2 separate regions of the Homo sapiens genome follow, and region 2 is linked to region 1. The links come from fine-mapping of genetic effects on gene expression. A gene starts in region 1. The other region holds a variant in brackets. All regions are shown on one strand. Distances are between the middles of the regions.

The links. PIP is the estimated chance that this variant, and not a neighbour inherited with it, causes the effect. A credible set is the group of variants that fine-mapping cannot tell apart.
Region 2: its variant is the best candidate, but not a certain one, in a credible set for the expression of MLPH in skin (TwinsUK, PIP 0.70).

The regions. Positions count from the first base shown.
Region 1 is chr2:237,485,169-237,489,555 of GRCh38, forward strand. It overlaps MLPH (melanophilin), which reads left to right and starts at 2,083. Exons shown (of 16, transcript NM_024101.7): 1 at 2,083-2,269. LOC105373957 (a long non-coding RNA gene) reads right to left here and starts at 1,980. Exons shown (of 2, transcript XR_001739962.2): 1 at 1,643-1,980; 2 at 532-1,553. RefSeq lists an enhancer at 950-1,918.
Region 2 is chr2:237,531,382-237,535,768 of GRCh38, forward strand. MLPH (melanophilin) reads left to right here. Exons shown (of 16, transcript NM_024101.7): 9 at 3,183-3,266. Among named protein-coding and RNA genes, the nearest start is that of MIR6811, 23 kb to the left of the region's middle. The variant CTT/C (reference allele first, on the strand shown) is at 2,009.

The sequences.
Region 1 (4,387 bases):
TATGTACAATGATATTCATGTGTCATCCTATGTATGATAGGTGTCAATAAGAATTATCTAGGATGATATTTATGGCAGAATCATTTAAATAGCAAAAAATCAAAAATTAACTGTCCATCAATAGAAGACTGGTAAGTAATTATGGTAACTCACACATTGGATACTCTGCAACCAAAAAAGGATGAAGTAGATCAACAGGAATAGTAATTAATATTTACCAAGCACTCACCACATGGTGTCTCACCCAAGCTGCAGGGATATTGATTCACAACACCCTTATGTGTAACTCCCATTACTATTCTCATCATGGAGAAGAGAGAAAAAAGTCAGTAGAAGATTCAGTAACAGGTCCAAGATGACACAGCTTGTGGGCCACACTCCTAGTTGGAATTCCGACTCTTGCAGTTGGTTTGAGCCCACATGCTTAACCTCACACACACACACACCATTCAGAAAGAATATAGAAGACACCATTAATAATGATTGCTTTCTGGTCATGGAGGTTAGTAATGGAATAAGAGAGAATTTGGCTTTTCATTTTATACTCCTTATATTCTTTACTATATACCTTATATATCAGCGTGTGTCAGTTGTATATTTTTTAAAACCACTACTTCAAATAAATAAGCACTAAAGTATTAAAAACATTTTTAAAAACTTCTGCCCTTAAGGAACTTAAGTCCCTACATCAACTCTTAAGGGATTTATTAATCTTAACAAGTAACAGTAAAGTATATGGCAAGGAGGTAAGGAAATGAAAAACATAAGCACCAGATCATATGGGATGTGGAAATACTGGCTTCAGTGTAAGCTTCACTCTATTCCAGGGTTCACACTCAACAATTGATGGTGTTTGGTAAGAGCACCTGTCTCAAAGCAGCCCAGGGGCCTGAAATACCCTGATTCACCTACAGTGTTCCCCTGGGCTCAGCAGGCAACAACATTCTTTTTTGTTCTTTTGCAGCCTTTTGAAAGCTGTTTACAAATAATCTAATGTGATATCACAACAATCCTATAAGGTTTTGATTCCTCTTCTGTTAAATGGAGATACTAGTATCTATTCATTCACCTAATGGCTTTATTCCTATCATTTTGCAGATAGGAAAACTGAATTGCAAAAGCGGTTCCTGGAGAACAGAATGTGAGTTTTTAAGTGACAAGGGAGAGGGAGGGGGAGGGAGAGAAAATTCTGAAGCGCCCAGTCTTGGAGGATGAGGGAGGAGGGCAATTCCCTAATGTCCATTGGAATTCGGAAGGACAGGCAGGCCGGGCGGACTGGAGACGGCGGCTCGCCTTGGGACCCTCTGAGCTTGCGGGCCCCGCTGAGCACCCAAAGGCCGGCCCTAGAGTCCAGGAGAAGAGCGCAGCGGCGCGGAGCTCCCAGGCGTTCCCCGCAGCGCGTCCTCGGTCCTGGAACCACCGCGCCGCGCGTCCTGGCTTCCACATCTGCCCCATTTGCCCGCGGATCTTGACTTTTTCTTGGCGGGCAAGGCCTCGGTCTCCTCCCCGCAGCAGGGCTGCCCGCGGCTGCGGGACCCTCCTGGTCCTGATGCCTGGCAGAATCGAAGGGGTGAGGGTACGCTCTCTGCAGCAGAAAGCCCTGGGCTTAAAGTCCTATTTATTATTTGGCGTTGCCACTTACTGGTCGGTGGCTTTGGTAGGGCGCGTTTCTGAGCCTCAGTTTCCCCATTTGTAAAGCCGAAGTACATAGCGCTTTCCCTGCAGAGTTAGAAATTTCGACGATGTGCCGCGCGCTCTAGAGCGCGCTCAGCAAGCGGGTCCCACCGTGCCCAAGGCAGGACCGCGGCGCGATGTCACCTATGCAAAGTCGCCGCAACTCACGGGAATCGCAGCTGTGTGCTCAACTTTCCCCTCCCCGCCGCCGTCTTTCTCCCCAAACTGGCTTGGGGGTCGAGTATCCGGGGCTCTCCCCCGCACTGGCGCTTCCCGCGCGGGCGCCCCAGGTGTCCGTTCCGTTCCGCCCTCTGCCTGGCAGGGCATCCAGAGGTGTCCGCGCTCCCGGAGCTGGGCGGAGCGGGGCGCAGCCCACGTGGTTCGGGCGGGAGGCGCCGGGACGTGGCCAGTTGCCCGCCTGCCCCGGAGAGCCAGGCGCTAACCAGCCGCTCTGCGCCCCGCGCCCTGCTTGCCCCCATTATCCAGCCTTGCCCCGGCGCCCTGACCTGACGCCCTGGCCTGACGCCCTGCTTCGTCGCCTCCTTTCTCTCCCAGGTGCTGGACCAGGGACTGAGCGTCCCCCGGAGAGGGTCCGGTGAGTGCACTGAGAAGAGGGAACAGCGGGGCCAGGGTGGCGCCCAGGACTCGGGGCTTAGGCTTTGGGGGGTGCGCGGTGTCGCGTGCAGACCCACTGGTGTGAAAACGCCCCCAGCCGCCAGCCTCCCGGCCTCGGTCCAGGCTGGTGAGGACAGCGCGTTCCCAGCCACCCAGCCTTAGTCCCCCAGGCTTCACCTGGATTCTTTGAGCAGACTGCTCTGGGTGCAGGCACGGGTGGGAGTGGGATGGCGGGGGATCCCCATTTTGGGCAAAACGGTTGGTTTTAATCAGAAGCTCCATTGCCTCCATTGCGAGTCTGCCATGCAGACTGGGCCAAGGCTGCTGATGCCAAGTAGGCTGGCCCCAGGGGAAAGGTTTCCTCCCAGCCCAGGAGCTGGTCTTGGGGTGAGGAAGAGGCCAGATGATCTTGGCCTGGGAGGAGGCACCTGGCTTCCTCTGGGCGTCTAAAAGTCTGTTTTATTGGAATCACCTTTTGTTTGCAGACAGACTCCCTGGGCCCACCAGGGAGGTGTGGGAAGTAGAGATGTGGGAAGGGTCTGTGAGCTGTGAGCACCTGTGGGCTTCGTCCCTACTAGCCCCAAGTCCCTACAGGAACGGAATCTCACTTGTAAATCCCTTCCCCGGGCTTAGACACCGCGTCCCACTGACATTAACTGGCACTGGAAACTCCACCTCACTTCCACACGGAACTTGGGACAGGTCCTTTTTTAGATGGTGTGACTGGTATCTTCTTCACTTATTTCTTTCTGAGGGAGTGAAATGACAGTCGGGGGAGAGCAAGGCTCCCAATAGGTGCAAAGGCCAGCATTGCTGGGGGCTGTGAAGTCTCAGGAAAAGGCTTCTGGACTTGCAGACCGCGTTGCTGAGCAGTGACATTGACACCCCGGGTTCAGCTGTCCTGCATCTGTCCTAGGAAACCCATCCCTCCAGCTGGCCTGCATCTGTCCTAGGAAACCCATCCCTCCAGCTGGCCTGCATCTGTCCTAGGAAACACATCCCTCCACCTGCTCATTGGCGGGATTCAGCTGACCTCAGTAAGGCCTCAGCCTTCCTGGGCCCAGCCCCCTCCCTGCCCAGGACCGTGCTCCTTAGTATCTAAGTACCAGGCATGGGTCACTGTGCTCCTGGCCCTCACTCAGGCTCTAAGAACAGTAGCAGGTGCCTCAGAGGATTGACTGAGGACACATTTAGAGAACATGGGATGGTGCCCGGCACACACATGGGGAGTCAGTGGGTCTTACTGAGTACGACATGAGTGACTCAGAAAAAAATTAAAACAAACCAGCTGAATGTGTGCCCAGTGAGGGGCTGGAGGTGGTGGAAGTGTCCCAGAGCCCTGTGGGCTAATGGGAAAAGTGAAATTGGTGCCTTTCAACCACAATGCAATAACGGCTCAAATAAGCCCCAGTCTCAGTGGTTGGGGCAGCCTTCTAGGGCCAACTGTCTTGTTCTTTTCAGAAGCAACCTCTGGAGGAACAGTCTTTGCCCCTACTCCTCCCCACTACCCCCACACCATCACTCCCCCTCTTAATTTCAACATCCTGGCATCATCCAGGGCTGGAGAGGGCCAGAGAGGTCTTGGAGCTCAGCCATTGTCCATGGTACAGATGGGGAAACTAAGACCCTGAGAGGAGGGGCATCTTTCCCAGGTGGCTGGGCTGGCTGTGCCTGAACTGGGATGGGAACCCAGCTCCCACCTCTCAGCACCATCCTCCTACAGCCTCACCTGGGACCCATCCTTGCGGTAGAGACTAGCACTGAGGCTTTAGGTGTAAATGCAGAACTCATGTCCATTTATAAATGAGGTTTACCACCAACTCCCCAGAGAACTGGGAGAGCAGAGGGGATGGCAAGTTGGTGGGCAGGTGGCTGAGGGGCAGAACACCCTCCCAGTGCTGTTGCTGCTGGGGCCATTCCAGACCCTTGTGGCTACAGCACAGATGTGCCTGGTTCACTTGTAGGGAAGGGAGTGGCCCTTCTAGGTGGAAATGTGCTCATTTAGCCACTGATGAGAGCTGGGGGTCAGTGCCTACTGATGGGCCCCACCTATAGAAATAACCATACAGGCTGACCTGGACGGCAGCATTCGGGAAAC
Region 2 (4,387 bases), 46 kb after region 1:
CTCAGGGTGGCCAGGTAGAGACCCATGGGACATCCTTGGCTGGCTGAGCATCTCCTAGTCTCCTAGCCTGAAGACAACAGGATGAAGAGGAGAATCAAGTTGTCTATTTTCAGTAAACCTGTAGTTTAGCAACTTTAGTAGCCTTTAGTAAAATACATAGCGTGGTTTCCAGCCCCACTGAAACCAATTATCCTTTATACCTGCTTGGAATTATTCTCTAGTTCATGTTTGTATATCCTGCCTGTGGAATTGTTTCTCTTTATTTATTCCTATTAACTTGTATTTACTTTGCCAACCCTAAATAATGAGATTCAGAAAATATAAATAAGTATTAGTATATCAAGTTTATCAGAACAAAAGCTTGACAGTGGCCACCCAGAAACACAGACTTCAAACAAATGGGGCCCAAAGTGGACTAGTGAAGTTTTCACCTATGTAGAAATTGTAGCAGGATCACAACCTTGCAAAGGAACAGTGACCTGGGGGGCCCTTATCTCCAATCCTGTTTGGTCTTAATTATTCACAGGGAAAAAAAAAGTAGAAGTTTCAGCTGTGAAACATGTCCTCTCAAGACTCAGAATTTAAAGTTCCAACAGCTTTGTTTGAATTATTCAATGTGACAACCTCAACTAATATTTCACCTAGATTGTTTCCCATGCATCTTTATATGGAGGAAATTAAGCAGCAGAAAGAAGCTCCAAATGCAGCAGCGATCCTGTACTTCAGAGAAAACCCAGGCAGACTCTTAGAGGGGCCTTTGTGAAGTGGCTGTGGTGGGACCCCAGGAGGAAGCACTCTCAATCTGCCCATCAACCCCAAGACTCCCAGCCATGCCCTCAGGGCCTGAGCTTTCTCAGGAATCGTATTTTATCACAGCTCATCTGAGGGGTCAGGCAGCTGTGCATTGCCTGCCTTTGCATTTGTATTGACAGTCACAGCTTTCCCGACGAGGGGTAAAGACTTCCTGTAGATATTGTTCAAGCCCAGACAAGGCCCAAGATGGCACAAGCATGTGGTAGGAAGGAAGTTTCTAAGGGGCTGAGATGGGAGACGGGAGAGGAAACGGCCCTGGCACGCACCCTCCGCCCCCTCACTCCCAAGGGCCGGCCCTGGGGCCATTCGTGTGTGCTCGGGCTACAGACACTGACGGTTTCCCATAAAAGTGTCACCAGTGACATATTTTGTTGGTTTGCTTTAATCCCTAGCTAGTGTCTGTATTGCATTTGTAAACTCTAAACTTTGGTATTGTCGCGAGTTGAAAGCTCAAGGGGTTCCTACCTAGTATTCTGTCCGTACATATCTAAGTAATGTGATAATCCTGATGACTGGTGCCCACACAGGGTCAGATGCCCACGTCTGAGTGATGCTACTCCCACCAGAGCAGTTGTTACTGTTGGAGAAATATAATTTTTAGAAAAACCCGAAATCTTTTCATTACCCAGAAAATCTCTCCATAAGGGTAGCAGAGGAAGAAGACAGATTTATTCTTGAACAAGCATCAAACCAGAATATGGCACGTGCCCCAGGCAATCCGCTGAGAGATTGCAAAGACAGGAAGGCCTCTCAGCCCTTCTGCAGCCCGGCAGGCCCGGCCCATTCCACACAGTTCTCAGCACAAACCATCACCAGTCCTTACCAATGAGAGGAGCTGATGGTGCCTTTGATCACAGTGTACATCCTCACTCTAGCATCATAACCGGGAGACCACTTGTGTTGGCTTTAACCCTAAGAAAAGCAACCTTCTCACACATCTTTAAGATGGGAGCTAGTTTTGCAAACTGGAGCAAGGCGCCCACCCACGTTAGACTCTTCACCCTCTCCTGGGGAGTGGGAGCTAGAGTTATCTTCAAGGATGTTTCCATTTCAAAAACACAGTTCCCAGGTGGAGTTTTGAGACTGCAGAGAGGCTTTTTAGCCATTTTAAAGATTTATATGTATTTGGAAAAAGCAGAGAAAGAAGCTCTGAAAGACAAGGGGGCAGTGGGAAGTCTCTTCTCTATTTTCTTTT[CTT/C]TTTTTTTTTTTTTTTTTTTTGTCAGAGTCTTGCTCTTGACACCCAAGCTGGAGTGCAATGGCATGATGTCAGCTCACTGCAAACTCCACCTCCCAGATTCAAGCGATTCTCCTGCCTCAGCCTCCCGAGTAGCTGGGATTACAGGCATGAGCCACCACCCCTGGCTAATTTTTGTATTTTAGTAGAGATGGCGTTCGCCATGTTGGCCAGGCTGGTCTCGAACTCCTGACCTCAGGTGATCTGCCTGAGTCCCCAAGCCCACTGCTTCCGGGAGACAGAGGATGTGTGCTGAGTGCTGTCTCCCCAGGGTATTGATCTCTGCTTCTGCAGATGCTCAACGGGACCAGAGGGTGACTCAGTTACTAGTGGCCGCTCAAGGCGTGGGCCGAGGTCTAACTGAAATCCTGGTGTTGACATTTCTCAGCCAGTCATGTTCTTCGGGCAGATTTGCCCACTCAAAGCCCTTGGTGCTGTGATGATTCAACTAATTACCGACCAAACAATACAAAAGCATCTTAACACTCCACAGCACCATTTCCCTCTTTTAAAGCCAGGTGAGCCGTAAATGAGATAATGGCAGGAAAGATGCATCTGCTGGGTGAGGAAGAAAACTAGAAAATTGATTTATCATGTCTCAGTCTGGGAGCTAATAGACTTTGGGTGACTCAAGAGTCTGGTGACTCAAGGGATGAGGAAGTTGTACTTCTGGTCCCTTTAGGTTGTCACCTGAAGTGCCTTGCCTCCTAGCCCACTAGTGACCCCAGGCTCTTGCTAGCTAATGACTGTGAGTTTGATCACTGTGGCGTAATTAACTGATGTCTTCCTGTGCTGCTCGGTACCGGCAGTGACAGTGGCTGTCCACAGTAATGACACCATCACAACCTTCCAGATTCAGCTCCTTGTCCTGCTGGACTCGGCTCCTCTCCTCCACTTTCACCCTCCCCACTCTCCCCTCTCTTGGTTCCGCTCCAAGATTTTGCTTGGTGTTCCAGAACTCTTGGTGTTAGAAATGGGTTTCACAATTAACCTTCCCAGGCCATGTCATGGGTGGTGGCCTTAGCTCTCCTTCCGCTTCTTGGGAATTTGGTGCTTCAGAGGTGGTGGGTGCCAGTGTCTTGCTGGTTGGAGTGCACTGGGTCCTCTGCCCACTGTTTCTCTCCTTCTGCTGCAGATCTTTGAGCTGAATAAGCATATTTCAGCTGTGGAATGCCTGCTGACCTACCTGGAGAACACAGTTGTGCCTCCCTTGGCCAAGGTAACACTGGGGGCTGGGCAAAGAGAAAGGGCCCCCACAGCTCCTTAGTTAAAGGAGGCTGAAGTGTGACATGGGCTTTTGGGAGAAGAGTTTCTTGAGATTTTGCTGTTTGTAAGGTTAAGTTCTGTGTGTAGTTCTCAGAGAGCCAGGCAGTTCCCACCACATAGCCTGAGTGAAGTCTTCTGTCCCATCCAGGCCTGCCACCACCTCTCATGCCCAGAGCTTGAATGAGAGAATGCTTGGAGGGCACATACGTGTAACAGCCTTCCCAGGGGACATAACTGGAGATGGGAGGAAACTTGCTTGGCCCTACAGCCTCTGAAGTCTAGGCACCAAAGCAGGGTGGAATCTCCTTCCGCACCATGTTTGTGAATGTATCATCAGCACAGCTTAGTCTGCTATATGCTGCTATAGCAAAATACCACAGACTGGGTAACTTATAATGAGCAGAAATGTATTTGGCTCATGGTTCTGGAGACTGGGAAGTCTAGGACCAAGGGGTGGCATCTGGTGAGGGCCTTCTTGCTGTGTCACCACATGGCACATGGTGACAGAGGGCAGGAGAGACAGAAAGCAAGATGGAACTGAACTTGCTTTTATAACAACCACCCTGGAATGAATAACAAATTCATTCCTTCAATAATGATATTAATCCATTCATGAAGGCAGAGCCCTCACGACCTAATCACCTCTTGAAGGTCCCACCTCTCAACACTATTGCACTGGGGATCGAGTTCCCAACACATGAACTTTAGGGGACACAGTCAAACCACAACAGCACACCGAGACAACCTGATGGGGAGTAAATAAAACAAACCATGGCCTGCTGCAGGAGTGTGTGTGCATGTGTGTGTGTGTGCTTTTGTGTCTGAGAGACAGGCAGACAGACAGCCGGGGTGCAGAGGGAGTAGGGACCCAGTCCTCCATTCCAGCTGAGTCACAGCCACACATCTAGCACCTGGGCACGGAGATAAGGAGATTCAGCAAATATGATTAAGTATTGAGTTTCTTTGAGCACAAAGTTTGAGGACAGCCTTCTGGGCCACACAGACTCCATAGGAATGGGGTCAGTGCTCCAAAGTGGAGAATTTAAAGTTTCACTTATATAGGCAGAAACAGAG